Linked DNA regions of Homo sapiens. The protein of the gene in region 3 interacts with the protein of the main gene of each other region in a biochemical or structural test. Each region holds a gene or a part of one and is shown on either strand. Other genes may lie near its edges.

Region 1 (7,027 bases), on a different chromosome or scaffold from region 3:
GACATCCTGTCATCCTTGATAATACGCTTTAAAATTACCCCACCAGTACTGGGTTTTCTTTTGGGATGATGAAATATTTTGGAACTAGGGAGAGGTTGTGGTTGTACAACATTGTGAATGTTCTAAATGCCGCTGAATTGTTCACTTTAAGATGGTTAATGTTATGTTATGTGAATTTCACCTCATTAAAAAAATTACCACACCAGTGTTGGTTCAGTGTTGAAGCCGGTTTGTCTCTGCTGTCATGGGTATTATCATGAAGCATTTTTGCTAAACTCCACTTTGTTAATGCTTCTCTAGTAAGAGCAAAGCATCTCAAGGTTCTTTATTGCTGTCCATTTTCCATTTTACAGGGGTTTGCTTAAGTGGCCAGGATATATGTGTTTATAAAGCATTTTGAAGTCATGGACTAACCCCAAATCATATATCTTGTATCAGTATTAATATTTGCACCTTCTGTCTTTTGTCAGCTGGCAGATTTGGGTGAGGGTAGTTAATTAATTTGGTCATCACAACTGATTTAATTTCTGGGAGAAGCTTGTATTTTAAGGCAAATTCAAATCTGTAATAATATAGCCTCCTTGGAAATTTTCACTTTTTCCTTTTGTGGGATGAACCATCTTCAAACACAAATCAGACACAAGAGAAAACTAGAAGACAGAAAATAAAGAATTGTTTAGCAACTTTTTTCCATAAGCACATATTTCATATCATTTCAACAAATTTGAGGAAGCACGAATAAACCTAAGTGACTTTAGCAAGATCAGTTGTACCTGTATATACTGGCAGCAAGAAACTAGAAAATTAAAATTTATGATACCATTTATGATAGCATCCAAAAAATTGAATACCCAGCTGTAAATATAATAATTTGGGTGTTATTGATACAGACCATGACACCTTTGTTGTGACTGCCACCTGGCCTGACAGAGATTGTGAGACATCCTGATTTCAGAGATGTTAACAATGATTTTTTTAAAGTGTCTTTGACTTGAAGCAATATGGTAATAATTTTCTGTGAAAAATTATGTAAAATGTCAGTCCTCTATGAAATCTATAGAAGTTCAGCCTGTGACCAGGTCTGGAAGTTTTGCTTACCACTCTACAGCGTGATTTTAATGTTATTTTTTGTTCAAAATCTGCTCTTAAAAAGAAGTTGAGCAGTGCCTACCTTTGCATTGGAAGGTACTGTTAACTATAGCTTTACTGAACAAATTAACTTCATAGACTGGCTATGGAGGCAAGTAAAGCCACAAAGGGTGGATGGTGGTGTGTGGGGTGCAGGGTTGGGTCTGAGCATTGAGCCACCGGCACAGAAGGGTTTGTTTCCCTGGTGTGAGTGATATGGGGCAGGGTCTGTGGGGGTCAGTGCAGCAAAAAAACAAAACCAACAAAAAACCCACAGAAATGTTTGCCTATCTAGGTGACTTGTGACTATTCCAAGATTTGTCTGTCCCTCCATCCTCCCACCTCTCTGATCCTTTCATGAACAAGGGAAAGTTGACATTTTAAAGAATCACATTGATGAGGTTAAATTGGGAGAATCGCTTGAACCCGGCAGGCAAAGGTCGCAGTGAGCTGAGATTGTGCCACTGCACTCCAGCCTGGGCGACAGAGCAAGACTCTGTCTCAAAAAATGATAATAATAATAATGAGGTTAAATTGCTTGAAAACCAGCCAATATAATGTTATGTGCATTTCATCAAATTTGGTTATTTTTTAAAAAGCATTTATTTGAGGCTGCTCAGTATTTGGGATAGCCTTTTATGTGTCAGAAATGCCACAGCAGAACAGGTGTGTGTGTATGTGTGTGTGTGTGTGTGTGTGTGTGTGTGTGTGTGTGTGTTTAGGCAGGAGGAGGTTTATGTCTGTGAGCTTTTATGTCCAAGTCCTGAAGTCCAAGCTGTCAGAACAATGACAGCTAAAATTCATTTAGCACTTATTATATGTCAAGTATTTTCCAAACTTCAGGATTTCTCACAAAGGTAGATTTCAATATAGTTCTAAATGGTTATCCTTGTAGTACATATAAGTTTCACCTTTAAAAGAGAGCTAGTTGAACTGTATACTGAAAAATGCTTGATGGTAAGTTTTATGTTACATGTTTTTATCACAGTTTTTAAGAGAACCATAAGCTCAGGAATTTACTATAAAGCCAAAGTAAATTCTAAATTAAAAAATGATGAACAATAGCAATATGCAGTTCTTTTTTTTTTTTTTTTTTTTGAGATGGAGTCACTCTGTCGCACAGGCTGGAGTGCAGTGATGCAGTCTCGGCTCACTGCAACCTCTGCCTCCAGGGTTCAAGTGATTCTCATGCCTCTGCCTCCCAAGTAGCTGGGATTACAGGCACGTGCCAGCACACCTGGCTAATTTGTTGTATTTTTTAGTAGAGACGGTTTCACCATGTCAGCCAGGCTGGTCTTGAACTCCTGACCTCAGGTGATCCACCCGTCTTGACCTCCCAAAGTGCTGGGATTACTGGCGTGAGCCACTGTGCCCGGTCTTTTTTTTTTTTTTTTTTTTTTTTCAGTATGCAGTTTTTGAAGGAAAACCTTATGATTCTTTTTAGCATTTTAAATTCTTTGCTCCTTTTAAAAGCAGATTTTTCACCATTTATCAAATCTAGTTCTTAGCTGAAGAATTATGCTTCCATTGATAGATCCTTTAGAAACAAACACATAATGAATGGCTAAAGCCTTATAAAATTAGCTGCAGATGGCACATATCTTGAGCCTAACTTAACTGGGTTATCCCACAGACTAATTCAAATGAATCATCTTTTATTCTATAATAAAACCTCATGTTTCCTAGCACTATAAGTATGGATTTTTTGTTGGTTTGTTTGCCATTGTTAACCACATTTTCTGTTTTTAATCAGATTTCTTTTTTAATACTAAGAAGTTATCTAACATACAAATCTGAGTTTCACTGAATAAATTTTGCTTCGAATTTATTTTTATATGATGCTGAAACTTTTCATCTTAAATTATAATGTGTCAATACTTTCAGTCTGTTGGGCATGGGAAGTTGTATAGCTAACCCTCAGCTACCCATGTAACACCCTTGTTACCTGTCTGGGCCCCAGGTTCCTTGTGGAGAAGCACTGGTATAAGCAGTGGGAGGCATACGTGCAGGGAGGGGACCAGGACTCCAGCACCTTCCCTGGCTGCATCAACAATGCCACACTCTTTCAAGGTACAAGGCCTTTGCCTCCTTCTCACCCTAGCCCTGGAGTTCTTGTCCCTTCCGTCCCTACAGATGATCATAAGCCCATTCTGTGTGCTAGGTCACTGGTGGGGTGGCCAGAGTCATTCGTCAGTTTCCTTTGTTGATTCTTCCTCTGCCACCTCCACCCCCGCCCCACAGATGAGATAAACTGGCGCCTCAAGGAGGGACTGGTGGAAGGCGAGGATTATGTGCTGCTCCCAGCAGCTGCTTGGCATTACCTGGTCAGCTGGTATGGTCTAGAGCATGGCCAGCCACCCATTGAACGCAAGGTATAATGGATGGGGAGGGTGCATGGCGGGGAGTGCGTAGTAAGAAAGCCTTGTAGGCCCAGCATGGGTACAGATCCATGTATGCTGGGTAGGTACACATATGTCTGCTCTCTTCCCCCTCCTAGCTCATCATACAGGTATCTTTGTCTGCTGTGTGTGTTCCCCTGTGTGGCTCTCTTTACAGACCATTGTATATGTGTGTTTGTATGCTATGTTTGTAAGGCAGAGTGTGTGCTCCTCTCATTTGAGAGGTCACAGCGCTGTGTCTGTGTGAGTACACCTGTGTCTGCACCCCTCTACTCTTACAGGTCATAGAGCTGCCCAACATCCAGAAGGTCGAAGTGTACCCAGTAGAACTGCTGCTTGTCCGGCACAATGATTTGGGCAAATCTCACACTGTTCAGTTCAGCCATACCGATTCTATTGGTGAGTCTAAGGGTCACGCAATGGGTTGGTGTTCCTAGCTACTAGTCCCAACTCAGTGACTTGAGGTTGCATAGGGTTAAGCTGAAGCTGACTGAGAAGGCACTGGTCAGACTTTGGAAGACCCAGAAGGCATTGGCTAAGTTGGGTGGAGGCACTGAGGGGATCTACTAGAGCCCTGAGGGTATGTGAGCTACATTCTAGTGGCTTACGTGGTGTGGCAGAGGATATTTGCTGGAGATCTCCAGTCTGGAGTGTGGGCCAGTCATTTGGAGACTGATTGAGGACACAGGTATTGGCCAAGCATGTGAGGTCCGTAGGGATGAGTCAGGTATGCCCAGATGGATTGATCATTTTGGGTCTCACAAAGATCTTGAATGTACTCCATCACCCCGCACAGGCCTAGTATTGCGCACAGCTCGGGAGCGGTTTCTGGTGGAGCCCCAGGAAGACACTCGGCTTTGGGCCAAGAACTCAGAAGGCTCTTTGGATAGGTTGTATGACACACACATCACGGTTCTCGATGCGGCCCTTGAGACTGGGCAGGTAAGGGTGGGGAGGGCTTTTCTGTTCAGGTGGACTGGCAGATAGACTCACCTGGCAGTACTCGGGGGAAATGAAGGCTAGGTACCCATAATGTCCTCCATTAATACCTTTCCTTCTTTCTCTTTCTCCAACCCAGTTGATCATCATGGAGACCCGCAAGAAAGATGGCACTTGGCCCAGCGCACAGCTGCATGTCATGTGAGCCCTTGGGGTATCTGGTCCAGAGCGGGGGCGTCCCACAGTAGGCAAAATGATTTAGCCCATGAGCACATTGCACCCCCATGCAGCAGGCCCTCAGCTGACAGTTTCTCATCTAACCCCAGGAACAACAACATGTCGGAAGAGGATGAGGACTTCAAGGGTCAGCCAGGCATCTGTGGCCTCACCAATCTGGGCAACACGTGCTTCATGAACTCGGCCCTGCAGGTTGGGCCATTATAGTTGTGTCTGGCACAGCCACGTGGTTGGGCTTCAAGAGCTGAGGATTGGGGACAGAGCTGGGGTCCTGAGGGGACTACAGGGCAAGGGGTCAGGATGAAAGCTGAGGCCCCACAAGTCTGAAGTGGCACGCCCACGTTCATTCCTGAACTATCAGCCTCTTCTCTCAGCTTGCCCTCATTTTCCCTCTTCTCTTCCCTGTTCCCACGTTCTTCCTTCTCGTGAAATCCTAATGCCTTCTCTCCCCTACTCTCCTGCTCCTCTCTCTCCTCCCTTCCCCTTCTCTCTTGTTTTCCTCTCTCTTTCCTCCTGGCTTCTTTTTGTGTATCCTCACTTTGAACCTTCTGTCTCCCCTCTGCCTCATTCACCTGGTCTCTGGCCTCTGCAGTGCCTCAGCAATGTGCCACAGCTCACCGAGTACTTCCTCAACAACTGCTACCTGGAGGAGCTCAACTTCCGCAACCCACTGGGCATGAAGGGTGAGATCGCAGAGGCCTATGCAGACCTGGTGAAGCAGGCGTGGTCTGGCCACCACCGCTCCATTGTGCCACATGTGTTCAAGGTGTGACTCAACCCTGGGCACCCCCGACCCCCTACGTCTCTTGGCTCTCCTAACTCCCTCTCTCTCTGATGACCCTGCCCATCTTCTTAGAACAAGGTTGGCCATTTTGCATCCCAATTTCTGGGCTACCAGCAGCATGACTCTCAGGAGCTGCTGTCATTCCTCCTGGACGGGCTGCATGAGGACCTTAATCGGGTGAAGAAGAAGGAGTATGTGGAGCTGTGCGATGCTGCTGGGCGACCGGATCAGGTAGGCTGCCCCCGCATTTGCAGTCCAATTAACATCACCAAGGCCTCTGCCTCGGGGATTTTCTGGCCTCCCTGGGGTATCTAACACGCCACCATTTTCTGTTAAGTTTCTCTACCTGACCTCAACTCCAGCCTTACTCTTAACCTTAGTTGCAATACCATATCTGCCCCCACAGTCAACCCAGAGTAAACCCCAGCGCAGTCTCCTGCCCTAAATGACCCCCAGTCTTGACCGTGAACATAGTCTCTGTGTATCCCTAGCTGGAGCTCTGCCTCTGGACTTTAGCAGTGGCCTTCCGCTTCACCCCATTTGAATGCACCCCAAGCCATGGTTTCCTCTTACCCTGGGCAAGCCCCACCACCCACCATGACACTATCAACAGGAGGTGGCACAGGAGGCATGGCAAAACCACAAACGGCGGAACGATTCTGTGATCGTGGACACTTTCCACGGCCTCTTCAAGTCCACGCTGGTGTGCCCCGATTGTGGCAATGTATCTGTGACCTTCGACCCCTTCTGCTACCTCAGTGTTCCACTGCCTATCAGCCACAAGAGGGTCTTGGAGGTCTTCTTTATCCCCATGGATCCGCGCCGCAAGCCAGAGCAGGTGTGGGGCAGTGGGGGCCTGGGGAGATGATGATGGACACATAGAGTTTGATTAGCTGCCATAGCTCAAGGCTTCTTGCATTAACTCACCACAAGCCCTTTTGGTCTTTTGTGGATACCGTTTTTCCCTTAGCACCGGCTCGTGGTCCCCAAGAAAGGCAAGATCTCGGATCTATGTGTGGCTCTGTCCAAACACACGGGCATCTCGCCAGAGAGGGTGAGACTGCAGAAGGAGGCTGGATGGGATTCCAGGGCAAGGAGGCAGAAGGGCCTGGGAGGCCGTGCAGACTAACAGTCCCCTCTCCATATCCCATTCCTAGATGATGGTGGCTGATGTCTTCAGTCACCGCTTCTATAAGCTCTATCAGCTAGAGGAGCCTCTGAGCAGCATCTTGGACCGTGATGATATCTTCGTGTGAGTGGGGATGGCAGGGAGGTGGTGGTTCCTCAGGAACTTGGTCCACTTCCTTTTGTATGGTCCTGCCTTAACCACCTTCTCTCTTCCCTGCCTCTGCCTCGTTCACTGGGCACCTGCCCTGCGCAGAGCTTCAGCCACATGCCTTGGGAGGCTGAGGCAGGAGAATCACTTGAACCCGAGAGGTTCAAGTGAGCCAAGATCACGCCACTGCACTCCAGTCTGGGCGACAGGGCAAAACTCCATCTCAAAAATAAATAAAGCCGGGCGCGGTGGCTCACGCCTGTA
Region 2 (7,027 bases), on a different chromosome or scaffold from region 3:
GGGGAGTTAGGAATGAAGAGGTTTTTTTTGTTTGTTTGTTTGTTTTTTGACGAGTCTTGCTCTGTCACCAGGCTGGGGTGCTGTGGCGCGATCTCAGCCCACTGCAACCTCCGACTCCCTGGTTCAAGCGATTCTCCTGCCTCAACCTCCCGAGTAGCTGGGATTACAGGCATGCGCCACCATGCCCAGCTAATTTTTGTATTTTTAGTAGAGGAGGGGTTTCACCATGTTGGCCAGGGTGGTCTCAATCTCCTGACCTTGTGATCTGCCCGCCTCAGCCTCCCAAAGTGCTAGGATTACAGGTGTGAACCACCATGCCCGGCCAAAGAGTTCTTTTTTCAGCTCCACAGCTGGACCGTCTTAATAATATGACAGCACAGATGAAGAGTTTTAAACCTTTTGTTGGCTTTTCTTTCGTATCTTTTTGGCAAGGGCACATGAAAATTAAGTACTGATAATATCACAATGAAAGCAGCTGTGTCATTCAGACCAGTGACCATTTTAGGTTTGATGAACTTTTCATTACCATCATCCAGGGTCTAAATTCTCCATTGTAAGGTAAGGATTCTCCAGGGTGGTGGTGAGGTGGGTTGAGATTGCATTTGTATCATTTGTGTTTTTATGAACTCTGAAGATCCATGTCGGGTGAAGGAAAGGATGGGAGGAGAAAAGGAAATACTTTGAAAGAGGGATAACTTGGACTGTTTATTTCCTTATGTGCTGGGTAAGAATGTCCAGGTGACATCTATATGTAGTAAATCAGTATTTCTAGTCTGTGGACCACACTGTAAACTTTTTATCTTTCTAAAGTTTTTTTTATTTTTGTAGAGATAGGGTCTCACTTTGTTGCCTAGGCTGGTCTCAAACTCCTGGGCTCAAGTGATCTTCCCACCTCAGCTGAGTAGCTGGGACCGCAGGGGCATATCACCATACCTAGCTAATTTTTGGTTGTTTTTTTTTTGTTTGTTTGTTTTTTTAAAGAGATGAGGTCTTACTTGCCCGGCTCAAGTGATGCTCCCATCTTGGCCTCCCAAAGTGCTGGGATTACAGGCATAGCCGCAGCACCCAGCTTGAAGATATTTTTATATTTCCAGGGTTTTAGGTGTTTACTTAAGAATTGTGACATCTTATTAGGTAGTATTTCCTAGGATGATTAGAGTGGGAGGCTAAGAATGCTTGTGACCTTTTAGTTCCCACCACCAACCTCTTAAAGTGCAGTCTATTTATTTATTTTTGAAATAGGATCTCACTCTGTCACCTAGAGTGCAGTGGCACTATCATGGCTCACTGCAACCTCGACCTCTTGGGCTTAGGTGATTCTCCCATCTCAGCCTCTCGAGTAGCTGGGACTACAGGTGCACGCCACCGTACCTGGCTAATTTTTGTATTTTTTGTAAAGATGAGGTTTCACCATATTGCCCAGGCTGGTTTCAAACCCCTGGGCTCAAGCAATCCTCCTGCCTCAGCCTCCCAGAGTGCTGGGATTACAGGCGTGAGCCACTGCACCCTGCTAAATGCAGTCAATTAAATGTATAAGAATCTGCCAGGCTGAGTGCGGCTGGCTCATGGCTGTAATCCCAGCACTTTTGGGAGGCCAAGGTGGGAGGATCACTTGATCCTAGTTGTTCAAGTCCAGCCTAGGCAATATTGAGACCTTGTCTCTACAAAAAGTTTAAAAAAAAAGCCAAGCATGGGGCAAGTACTTGCAGTCCCATCTCCTTGGGAGGCTGAGGTGGGAGGATTGTTTGAGTCCAGGAGGTAGAGCTGAGATTGCGCAGTGATCACTGCAGTGCGCTGAGATTGCGCCTCTGCAGTTTAGTATGGGCAACAGAGCGAGACCTAGTCTCAAAAAAAAGAATCAGTTCCAGTGCCATGGTCCTTAGTGTGGAGTAGGACCAACCTAAGACAGAAGCTTGTCTACAGAGAGCTGAAAGAAAGCAGCCTCTTTGTTGCCAGTTTAAAACAATACTGGCATTTTAAAAGCAAACAGATTCTAGTAGGAGACATTGTATAGAAGCGCACCCTGTTGTGAAAGACTGGGATCTTGAGTTTCGTGCTCTAAGTCTTGTATTCTATCAGGGGAGTAATAGGCTTTTAAAATCATAAAGTGACTATTAAAATGCTTTCAGTAGATAGATTCATTACTCCATTATTTCTACTGTATAAAAGTTTATTCTAAACATGTCTAGGAAATATCCAGATTATAAAAGAGAAATAACGGTATCCAAACCAGACTTTTTATTGCATAACATTGGTGTTAGAGTTAGTTTTTAAGTCTCTGAGATTGAATTAGCTTTTTTTTTTTTTAAAGCAGATTATCAGTGAGCTAAGATAATCTGCTGTTTACCCTCACCTATTTGGAACACAGGCAACTGAATTAATTGAATCAGCAATAGGCATGGGGTAGTGACTTTGTATATTTTCATTTTAGAGCCAAAAGCCAGTGAGTTTTAGATTAGCTTTATAGTAATATTAAAAACTTCATCTTTTATTTTTACAAATGTAGCCAAGAAACATCATTGCTGTTAAAATCAGTCAGAAAAGGAGGCTACTTGCTCTTTATTGATTTAGTCATTCTGCTCTTGGAGTGAGTAGAAAGTCTTTGAAAGCTTTTCAAAAATTAGCGAGTGATGAATTTTATGAATTAGTCACTTCTTTGCAGCAGTTTTTTTTTATCTCTACCTCTGTAGGACATAGTTCCTGGGCCAGAAGCCAGATTTCTCAAGTACCATCTAACCCCAGGAATGTGTTATGATACAGATAAATTAATGAACGGAGGCTGCCTTGAGGTTGCCAATAGGGCATTGGGGAGTAATTAATATGACAAAGATGTCATCTTATTAATGAAATGTATTAATAGTATGTCTAGTGGATTGGGTCAATGCAAACATTTTAGATTAGATATTTGCTGTTTATCCTCTGAAGTTACTGTTTAAGGAAGTCTGGCCAAGTTCTAAAGTGAAGCATACATATTTGCCTCACGTGCCATTTTTTTTTTTCTTCCTGGCTTTTTCTTAGCCATCTGGAAAGCTACTATAGGGTTTACCTCTAATGGTAGTCAAGTTACTGTATTCCTCTGGTGTACTTTAATGATTGCCACATTACCAGGTATGTTTTGTTAACCTTACTTAGAATCCAACATTAGACCCTTTCTTCTAACCTAACCTGTAGGAAGGCACTTCTTGAGGTTTTAAGCCTCTCTTTAATGTTTTATTGTAAGTTGTACCTTGGGAGCATCATTTTTTCATCTTAAATCCTCTCCAGTTTAAGAAAAATTTGAAATATAAATGGCAAAAACTGTTAATGGCAACAGACTTCTGATGTAAATGTAAATTGAGATGGAAACAAAATGAAAAGTAGATTTCCCTAGGAATTAGTTAAACTGAGATAAATGGTCCTGGATGTTTTTATAGAAAGTTCTCTTAGCCAGGTGCAGTGGCATGTACCTGTAATCCCAACTACTCGGGGGGCTGAGTTGGGAGGACTGCTTGAGCCCAGGAGTTTCAGGCTGGCAACATAGCAAGACCTTGTCTCTTAAAAAAAAAAAAAAAAAAAAAAAAAAAAGTTTGCTTAGTTCTGCTGCTGGAAATTAACACTTAAGGGTTAGAGTGCATTCCTGACATAGTCTGAAATACTGTTATTAGAATTAAAGCCAGAGGCCATGCACGGTGGCTTACATCTGTAATCCCAGCATTTTGGGAGGCTGAGACGGGCGGATCACCTGAGGTCAGGAGTTTGAGACCAGCCTAGCCAACATAGCAAAACCCTGTGTCTACTAAAAATATAAAAATTAGCCAGCTGCAGTGGCATGCACCTGTAGTCCCAGCTACTTGGGAGGCTGAGGCGGGAGAATTGCTTGAACCCAGAAGGCAGAGGTTGCAGTGACCCAATATCACACCAGTGTACTCCAGCCTGGGTGACAGAGTGAGACCCTGTCTCAAAAAAATAAAAATAAAAAAACAATAATTAAAGCCAGTAAACTATAAACACTGGGCATTTTATGTTACCAATAGGGAGAGAAGGCATTAATTCAAAGAAGGAACAAAGTTCCTTATTCATAGTTTGAATCCTCATCATTATCCATGGTGATTGCTTTGCAGTCTTCCATCTTGGGTATCCTCAGAACCTTCAAGAGGGAGAAGAGGCCAGGTGTGGTGGTACATACCTATAATCCCAGCACTTTGGGAGGCCAAGGTAGGAGGATTACTTGAGCTCAGGAGTTTGAGACCACGCGGCAAGATAGTGAGACTCCGTCTCTACGATAATAATAGTAAAAAAATCTATTTTAAAAATTAAAAGAGGGAGAAAAACTTAGGGAGGCTTATATTGTGGGTTCCTGGGTAGATTGTCTTACTGCAGTTCGTAGAACATGAATACTTGAAAGAAGATATTAACGGAGCTCTCTGAATTCTTTAAAACGCCAGAAAGGGTAAGCAGATTTCATAGACTTGGGACTGTGTCCTATATTATATACGATGTTTGGAGAATCATTGCTGAGTGGTAAAGAGGTCCAGGATTTTCTAGGAAATGTAGTCTGGTATAGAGATGGGAAACTAGAAAAATAATATAAATGGCTACTATGTACAAACAGGCTCTTAGCATACATTATTTTTAATCCTCTAAATTCCTGCAGGGTGGTAATATTATCCCATTTTACAAAAGAAAAACTCAAAAGCAGGTGGTAGAGGTAGAATTCAAACCCAGGTCTGTTTGACACCAAAGCCCTTTTCTTTCTTTCATAACACATGCTGTCTTTAAAAATAGGACTTTTCTTTTTTCTTTTTTTTTTAGATGGAGTCTTGCTTTGTCGCCAGGCTGTAGTGCAGTGGCATGACTTGGCTCACTGAAACCTTCCCCTCTCGGGTTCAAGCAGTCCTCCTGCCTCAGCCTCCGAGTAGCTAAGACTACAGGCGCATGCCACCATGCCCAGCTAATTTTTGTATTTTTAGTAGAAATGGGGTTTTACCATGTTGGCCAAGATGGTCTTGATCTCTTGACCTCGTGATCCACCCGGCCCGGCCTCCTAAAGTGTGGGGATTACAGGCGTGAGCCATGGTACCTGGCCAAAAAAAAAACCAGGGCTTTTCAAAGCCAAGAGATGAAGCTGAAAGGTAGAATTAAATATTTCTTATAAACATATGTATATAAATTATTCAAATGACAGTAGGAATACAAACTTTTTTTATTGTTTAGACATAGTTATGCTATATTGGTAAGCTAATGAGTTTTTAAGAAAACAATTTTTTTTTTTTTTTGAGACAGAGTTTCGTTCTTTGGCCCAGGTTGGAGTGCAGTGGCACAATCTTGGCTCATTGCAACCTCTGCCTTCCAGTTTCATGCGATTCTTCTGCCTCAGTCTCCCCAGTAGCTGGGATTACAGGCATGCACCACCATACCTAGCTTATTTTTGTATTTTTAGTAGAGACGGAGCTTCACCATGTTGGCCAGGCTGGTCTCAAACTCCTGACCTCATGATCCGCCTGCCTCGGCCTCCCAAAGTGTTGGGATTACAGGCATGAGCCACGCACCCATCCCAGGAAATAATTTTTATAGATTTAAGAGATAGCTGAATCCTAGTGTTTTATGATTCTTTACTGGAGAGAAAATCAGCATTCCATTCAATCTCTGAGATAATTCCAGGGGAAAAGCTGTTCTGACTCTTACAGCCTTTTGACAGTATACTGTTCTCTGTATTTTTTTGGAAGCATGGACTATCCTCCTTACCTTCTTGGTTTTTTTGTTTGTTTTTCTGAGACAGGGACTTGCTCTGTCACCCAGGCTGGAGTGCAGTGACCCCATCACAGTTCACTGCAATCTCGACCTCTGGGACTCCAGTGATCCTCCCACTTCAGCCTCCCAAGTAGCTGGGACTACAGGTGTACACCACCACACCCTGCTATTTTTTTTTTTTTTTTTTTTTTTTTTTTTTGAGATGGAGTCTCACCCTGTCGCACAGGCTGGAGTGCAATGGTGCGATCTCGGCTCACTGCAACCTTTGCCTCCCAGGTTCAAGTGATTCTCCTGCCTCAGCCTCCTGAGTAGCTGGAATCACAGGCGTATGCCACCGCGTGTGGCTAATTTTTGTATTTTTAGTAGAGACAGGGTTTCACCATGTTGGCCAGGCTTGTCTCAAACTCCTGACCTCAGGTGATCCACCCGCCTCAGCCTCCCAAAGTGCTGGGATTACCAGCGTCACTTAGACGTCAGCCACTGTGCGCAGCCTAATTTTTAAATTTTTTCTAGAGACAGGGTCTCCTGATGTTGCCCAGGTTGGTCTCAAATTCCTGGACTCAAGCGATCCTCCAGCCTCAGCCTCCCAAAGTGCTGGGATTACAGGCATGAGTCACTGCGCCCAGCCTATCCTCACCTTGAAACCTTTTTATTCTTGACTTCCAGAGGTTTAATTTTGATTATTCGTTCTTCTCAATTTTTCTCTCTGCTCTCCTTTCTCTTCTCTAAGGGTAGGTATTCCTCAAGATTCTTCCCTTGAACATCCTCTCCCAGAGCCTTCTTAGGTAACTAATTGTTTGTTTTAGTGAGATATGATTTACAAGGTGTTTGATTTTGAAGTTTCTCTGTACAGATAATTCACAAGTCTGTATCTCTGGCCTTACTTTATTTAAGTTCCAAACTTAAATTTGTTCGTCAGTACCTTCCTAACATGTCGGCTTGGATTTTAAATTTATTCAGAATAATTTCTCATCCCACCTGCCAGCTTCTCATTTGTGTCACTTGATTTTCTCTGGGCGCCAGACTAAGAACTTGTCCTTCTTAACTCAGCTTTGTAACTGCTTATTGAGCTAAACATTATCTACCTTTACAACGATTCTCATGTTGATCCCTTTTTAATTCCTTTTGCCATCAACCCAAGACAGCCCCTCATTACTTCTTATCTTGGCAACTATAATAGCTTTTAAACTTGTTTCTCTTTCCTTTTCCTTCATTTCAGTCCATCTTATTATCTTTGACAAAATAATTTCTCTGATGCCTGACTGCCTGCCCCCCAACAACAAAGCTTTTATTATAC
Region 3 (7,027 bases):
AGGATCCGAAAAAGTTACATAAATTGTGTTTGATTAATGCGTATCTTGGGTCTCTTTTAGATCTAGAGTGTCTCTCATCTTTTTTAAGAAACATTATTTGTTGAAGAAAATGAGTAATTCTGTATAATTCCCCACATTCTAGACTTTACTGATTGTATCCCCATGATTTCTCTGCCTCTTGTGTTTCCTGTTAACTATAGTAACTATAAGTTAAATACGGAAGTTTGTGATTAAGGTGTTTTTTTATTTTTTTTTTTATTTTTATTTTTTTTTGGGAGACAAGATCTTTCTCTGTTGCCCAGGGTGGAGTGCAGTGGTGCCATCTCGGCTCATTGAACCTCTGATTGCTGGGCTCAAGCAATCCTCCCACCTCATCCTCCTGAGTAGCTGGGACTACAGGCGTGTACCACCAAGCCCAGCCAACATTTATATTTTTTGTAGAGATGGGATCTCACCATGTTGCCCATGCTTGATTTTTAATAAGAATACTTCATTGGTGGTATTTATAGATTTTGATTTATTTCCAAATTGTTCTTTCAAAAGTTTCATTTTATCTAGTCATTTTACAGGACAGCTTTTATCAGTTCCTGGTATAAAATCCTTTTAGCCTCAGCCTTATAATATGAATATCTATACATACATAATACTTCATACACACACGATATACATATATTCCCATGTATATATATGTGTGTGTGTCAGCCACTTACATGTCCTGTTACTCTTCTATGAATCTTAAATTTGATATTGCTGTTTTGAATCTACTTCATCCCCTATGCCTTCTATATTCTCTCTGCTTGAAATCTACCCTCACTATCTTGAATGATGAAGCCTGGTGACAACTTTTTAGATAATTTTATGTAAGATAATTATTTGCTAAGTCATCCAGTGACATACTCGGGTATTGTTTGTCTCCCTACCAGCAGCATCTAGTAGGTACTTCAAAATCAGAGCACTTTATTCTGTATTTTTAATTTTTTCTGTCTTTGCCTCTTACCCAGGAATGCAAACTCAGATGTCTATCCACAGAGGCCTAAAGTGGGCTGTAACATGGTTTGGCAAACTTTTTCTGTAAATAGCCAGATAGTAAATATTTTTAGCTTTTGAGTAGTTTTGTGGGCAACTACTCAACCCTGTACTCTGCTGTTGTTGCTTGAAAGCAGCCATAGACAAACCGTAAACAAGTGAGGCTGACTTTGTTCCAATTTATCCCATTTCTTTGCTTTTAAAAAAATACCTGTGTATTCGCTTAGCTGGAGTTGGTCTACAGGCTGTAGTTTGCTGACCCCAGGACTAGAGGTTTGTTGCCATGTGTGAATTTGTACTTAATCTACTCAGATTAAAAGAAAGAAAAGCTGGAAAATCACTGTATTTGATGAAATATCCCATTGTATAAGTGTTCCCAAATTAGCCTAGAATGTTATGAAATATTATGAGCCAGTAATGTCTATAGGCTTATTTCTGCCTGAAGGCTACTAGTTTTATCTTGAGAATCTCATCCTCATTTCCTGGCAAAATGAGCACAGAATAAATGCTTGTTGAATAAATAAATAAATGAACTTCATACATTATTAATTTGTTTTTGTTTTCTCAAACTACTAGGAAATTTTGTCTGTGGCTAAAAAAAATAAAAAGGAGAATGAGGTAAGAAATTTATAATGTAAGATTAAGTTTAGAAGTCATATTTACTCCTCAGTTACTAGTCCTTTTTCTTTAATCAGCAGTATACGTTCTTCTCACTATTATCCTGTTTCTTTGCTTTAAAAAAAAATACCTATGTATTCACTTCTTCCATATCCAACATTCTTCTTTTTTATGTATCAACTTTAGTTAGTTGTTTTATTGCATGATTCTTGATGTATAAATGTTAATTTATGGGTCTAGCAATGTTGCTTTTAACTTGTGAATCTGGCAGTGATACAAGTGCTCGTAACCATGTGGATATAAACCGTGAATCATCTTATGGAAGCTGTGAGGGATGCCTTAATCTTGCTTCAGACCTTAAAGATTTTTTAAGTTTCTTAAAAGTTCTGTTTGAGAAGGCTTGATTTCCGAGCCACCTCTTCACTTAGCCCATTTCATGTAGAGAGGTTCCTTGTTATCTGACTTTTTATTGTTCAAGTACTTAAAATTACAAGGTTGCCTAGGGAAGCAAAATAATCATGACATGAAAATATTCATGAATGGATATGAACTTCAGGTAGTTAATTTACATATTAAAGATTTTTAGGCCTTTGGGAAATTAATGTTATGTTTATAAAATGAGAGATAATCTATTTGGTCATATAATTTTGTCCAAAATTTATATTGTAAAAGTGTCTTGGTTTTTATTCTTTGTTAAGTTATTAAGGACTGGTTTATGGGTGCAGTTTAGTTGGATTTTTAAAGATTTAGTTAGATAAACATTTAGTTGGATTTTTAAGATAAAGTCTAGATGTAATCTTCTGTAATTTACTATGGGATTTTGGCTTCATTTTATAACTTACAGTCAGTAAGAAATAGTTGTTAAGTATGGTATTTTAATGAATTTCGACACTTGCATACACTTGTGTAACCACCATCCAAATCAAGGTATAGAACATTTCCATTGTAAAGGGATCTCTTCTATGTCTTTCCACCCCCAAACCCAGAGGAGGCCACTTTTTACACCTTTTATAGGATGGCTTATTATTTCCTTTCCACTCAACATGTCTGTGATACTCATTTATGTTGTTGAGCATATTAGTAACCGGTTTCTTCTTATTGACTAGTATTCTGTTGAATGAATGTTACAATTTTCTCATCCATCCCCTTATTGATGGGCATTTGGGTTGTTTGCAGTTTGTGACTTTTATGAGTAAGGTTGCTATGATAATTTGCACACAAGTCCATGTGTAGACATGTTTTCATACTTTCTGCCTGTGTACCTGGGAATGGTATTGTTGTGTTACGTGGCAAATGTGTGTTCATAAGAAAGTACAGATTTTCCCCCCCAAAGTAAACACATCATTTTATTCTCTCGCCAGCAATGTTTGAAAACTCCAGCTTACATTATTGTCAGCATTTGATAGTCTTTTTAATTTCAGCCATTTTATTAGATGAGAAATGGTAACTTGTGTGGTTTTTAACTTGCATTTTCCTAATTACTACTGAAGTAGAGTATATTTTTATGTTCTTTGATAACTATGTTTTCTTTCTTTTTTTTTCTTTTTTGAGATGGAGTGTCACTCTGTCGCCCAGGCTGGAGTGCAATGGCACGATCTCGGCTCACTGTAAACTCTGCCTCCCAGGTTCAAGCGATTCTCCTGCCTCAGCCTCCCAAGTAGCTGGGACAACAGGCTCATGCCACCATGTTCAGCTAATTTTTGTATTTTTAGTAGAGACAGTGTGTCACCATTTTGGCCAGGATGGTTTTGATCACTTGACCTCATGATCTGCCTGCCTTGGCCTCCCAAAATGCTGGGATTACAGGCGTGAGCCACCATGCCCGGCCTGTATGTTTTCTTTTGTAAAGTATCTGTTAATATCTTTTGCCCGTCTTATTTATGCGTACTGTATTTTCTGTGTAACAGTTTAATAAATTATTGAGTATCACAATATTAGAAGTTTGGAAGAGAGATACAATTCTAATGATCTTTTCAAAAGTATGTGCCTGATTTTAATTTGTAAGGGTTATTCTCAGATTTTTATATTTTATTTTATTTTATTTTATTTTATTTTTTGAGATGGAGTCTTCTGTCACCCAGGCTGGAGTGCAGTGGCTGTGTTCATGGCTCACTGCAGCCTTGACTTCCTGGGTTTAAGTGATCCTCAGCCTCCCGAGTAGCTGGGATACAGGCAGTTGCGTGCAACCACACCCAGCTAATTTTTTGTATTTTTAGTAGACACAGGGTTTCGCCATGTTGTCCAGGGTTGTCTTGGATACCTGGACTCAGGTGATCCTCCTGCCTCAGCTTCCCAAAGTGCTGTGATTGTAGGATTAGCCACTGTGGCAGCCTGTTATTTTTTTTTTTAGTAGCTTTTCATTTGTAGAGGGATGGCGATGTCTCCAGTTTTTTAATCCAGGTGTGATCTTAGTCTTCTATACTTAATGATTATAGGACTCAGTAGATTTTGTTAGTTGCATTTTCTGATAAATGGTGGCATACAGCAGCATTTTGTATAACACATCTTATTAAACTTTTTTTCTCTACAGGATGAAAACTCCTCCTCTACTAATCTCTGTGTGGAAGATCTTCAGAAAAATAAAGATTCGAATAGTATAATTAAAGATAGATTGTCTGAAACGGTTAGGCAGAATACTAAATTCTTTTTTGACCCAGTCCGGAAGTGTAATGGTCAGCCAGTACCTTTTCAACAACCAAAGCACTTCACTGGAGGAGTGATGCGATGGTACCAAGTAGAAGGCATGGAATGGCTTAGGGTAATGAATTGGAATTTTTAATACAAGATACTGGTTTTATTTCTATAGTAGCCTAATGATTTGAGGTACCACAACTTGAGTCATTTCTATCATGTTTCACTATTATACATTTGTATGTGGATACTTGCTTTCTGATTTCTTTACCCTGAATTTTTAGAAGTAGAAATTACCTTGTTAATGGCTTCCAGCACTTTTATGGCTTTGATAAAGGACTTTCCAGTGTTGTTATAATTTATGGTGTGAATATATCAGCTTTAACATAATTCTCATCTTTGGGTGTGATTTTTTAAAGAGAAGAAATAAAATATTGTAATCCTGTAGTTGTTTATATCCAAGTTTAAATACAGTATCTATTATTTTGTCCAGATGCTTTGGGAAAATGGAATTAATGGCATTTTAGCAGATGAAATGGGATTGGGTAAGACAGTTCAGTGCATTGCTACTATTGCATTGATGATTCAGAGAGGAGTACCAGGACCTTTTCTTGTCTGTGGCCCTTTGTCTACACTTCCTAACTGGATGGCTGAATTCAAAAGATTTACACCAGATGTAAGACATGCTTCCTTATGTTAAAATTATAATTTTACATGTTTTCTTATGCTTTGTTGTAGTAGGAATTAAATTGTAGAACTCTTATAATTATATTGGTTTCTGTATAAATATTTTGTCTGATTTGACTTACTCAATCTGCACAATACCCTAATTTAAATTTATATAGTATAGGTTTTGGAAATCCCTGACATCTTTCCTAAAATATTCCTGAATGATTTTCAGTGCATTGGTAATTTGATTCGACTGAGACAGACTTAGGTAGAGATTTTATTAAAAATTCTGCTTGTTCTTCACTTGATCTTTGCCAAAAGGCTAAGAAGAGAGTTTTCTGTTTTTTCTGTACTTGTTACCTTCTGCAATTTTTTTTTTTTTTTTTTTTTTTGAAATGGAGTCTCTGTTACCCAGGCTGGAGGGCAGTGATGCAGTCTTGGTTCACTGCAATCTCTGCCTCCCATGATGAAGCAATTCTTGTGCCTGAGCCACCGGAGTAGCTGGGATTACAAGCATGTGCCACCATGCCCAGCTAATTTTATGTTTTTAGTAGAGACGATGTCTTGCCATGTTGGCCAGGCTGGTCTTGAACTCCTGGCCTGAAGAGATCTGCCCACTTTGGCCTCTCAAAGTACTGGGATTATAGACGTGAGCCACTGTACCTCCCGGGCCCAGCCCTTCTGCACATTTTTGCCTTATGAGAAATATATATATTCTAGACGTAGTATCACCATCTGTCTCATTTTATATATTTATATATATATTATTTATTTATTTATTTTGAAATGGAGTCTGTCTCTGTCACCATGCTGGAGTGTAGTAGCTGGGACTACAGGCGCACACCACAAGGCCAGGCTAATTTTTTGTATTTTGGTAGAGACAGGATTTCACCATGTTGGCCAAGATGGCCTCTATCTCCTGACCTTGTGATCCGCCCACCTTGGCCTCCCACAGTGGTGGGATTACAGGTGTGAGCCACTGCGCCCAGCCTATATGTGTTTTATGTATTTGTAGGTTTTTTGTTGGGGGGGGGGTTGTGTTTGTGTGTGTGTGTGTGTGTGTGTGTGTGTGTGTGTGTGTGTGTATGACAGAGTTTCACTGTTGTTGCCCAGGCTGGAGTGCAATGGCACGATCTCGGCTCAGTGCAACCTCCGCCTCCCGGGTTCAAGCGATTCTCCTGTCTCAGCCTCCCAGGTAGCTGGGATTACGGGCGTGCGCCACCACGCCTGGCTAATTTTGTATTTTTAGTAGTGACGGGGTTTCTCCATGTTGGTCAGGCTGGTCTGGAACTCCCGACCTCAGGTGGTCTGCCCGCCTCAGCTTCCCAAAGTGCTGGGGATTACAGGTATGAGCCATCCCACCTGGCCCGTCTATTTGTTTTTATGCCTTTTTTTTTGTCTTCAGACAGGATGTTGCTCTGTTGCTCAGGCTGGAGTGCAGTGGCGTCATTCTGGCTCACTGTGGCCTTCACCTCCCAGGCTCATGTGAGCCTGCTATCTCACACGCCTGAGTAGCTCATGTGAACCTCCCATCTCACTCCACTGGGTGAGTAGCTGGCACTACGGGTGCGTACCACCACACCAGCTAATTTTTGTATTTTTTGTAGAGATGGGATTTCTCCATGTTGCTCAGGTTGATCTCGAACTACTGGACTTTAGAGATCGGCTTGCCTTGGCTTCCCAAAGTGTTGAGATTATAGGTGTGAGCCATTGTGCTGGGCCTGACTTTGTTTTTTTGTTTGTTTTTTTTTCATTTTCTCCCATAATAGTTCAATGATTTGTTAGAATTGCTTGGCTTATTTTGCTATAGAAAAATAGAAATAAAATTTTTTAAAATTATATTTTTTCCCTCAGAATGATTTATATTTTCTAAATAGTCAATATTTACATTTTGTTCTTAAGTCTGATAAAAATCAATATAAAATTTTTCAGATCCCTACAATGTTATATCATGGAACCCAGGAGGAACGTCAAAAATTGGTAAGAAATATTTACAAACGGAAAGGGACTTTGCAGATTCATCCTGTGGTAATCACGTCATTTGAAATAGCCATGAGAGACCGAAATGCGTTACAGGTACAAA

The links. Proteins that work in one complex are often made in the same cells at the same time.
Region 1: the proteins of HELLS (region 3) and USP11 form a complex in vitro, tested with the Homo sapiens proteins (one study listed by BioGRID).
Region 2: the proteins of HELLS (region 3) and DCAF8 form a complex in vitro, tested with the Homo sapiens proteins (one study listed by BioGRID).

Annotation. Positions count from the first base shown.
Region 1 is NC_000023.11:47,235,982-47,243,008, forward strand, and holds part of USP11 (ubiquitin carboxyl-terminal hydrolase 11), read left to right. Parts: intron 1-3,088; coding exon 3,089-3,198; intron 3,199-3,369; coding exon 3,370-3,500; intron 3,501-3,808; coding exon 3,809-3,926; intron 3,927-4,323; coding exon 4,324-4,469; intron 4,470-4,605; coding exon 4,606-4,667; intron 4,668-4,792; coding exon 4,793-4,895; intron 4,896-5,295; coding exon 5,296-5,469; intron 5,470-5,559; coding exon 5,560-5,718; intron 5,719-6,100; coding exon 6,101-6,325; intron 6,326-6,457; coding exon 6,458-6,541; intron 6,542-6,644; coding exon 6,645-6,739; intron 6,740-7,027.
Region 2 is NC_000001.11:160,252,550-160,259,576, reverse strand, and holds part of DCAF8 (DDB1- and CUL4-associated factor 8), read left to right. Parts: intron 1-7,027. UniProt on the Homo sapiens protein: May function as a substrate receptor for CUL4-DDB1 E3 ubiquitin-protein ligase complex.
Region 3 is NC_000010.11:94,569,786-94,576,812, forward strand, and holds part of HELLS (lymphoid-specific helicase), read left to right. Parts: exon of another isoform or gene 1-1,602; coding exon 1,603-1,644; exon of another isoform or gene 1,645-4,174; coding exon 4,175-4,402; intron 4,403-4,768; coding exon 4,769-4,951; intron 4,952-6,876; coding exon 6,877-7,020; intron 7,021-7,027. UniProt on the Homo sapiens protein: Plays an essential role in normal development and survival. Involved in regulation of the expansion or survival of lymphoid cells. Required for de novo or maintenance DNA methylation. May control silencing of the imprinted CDKN1C gene through DNA methylation.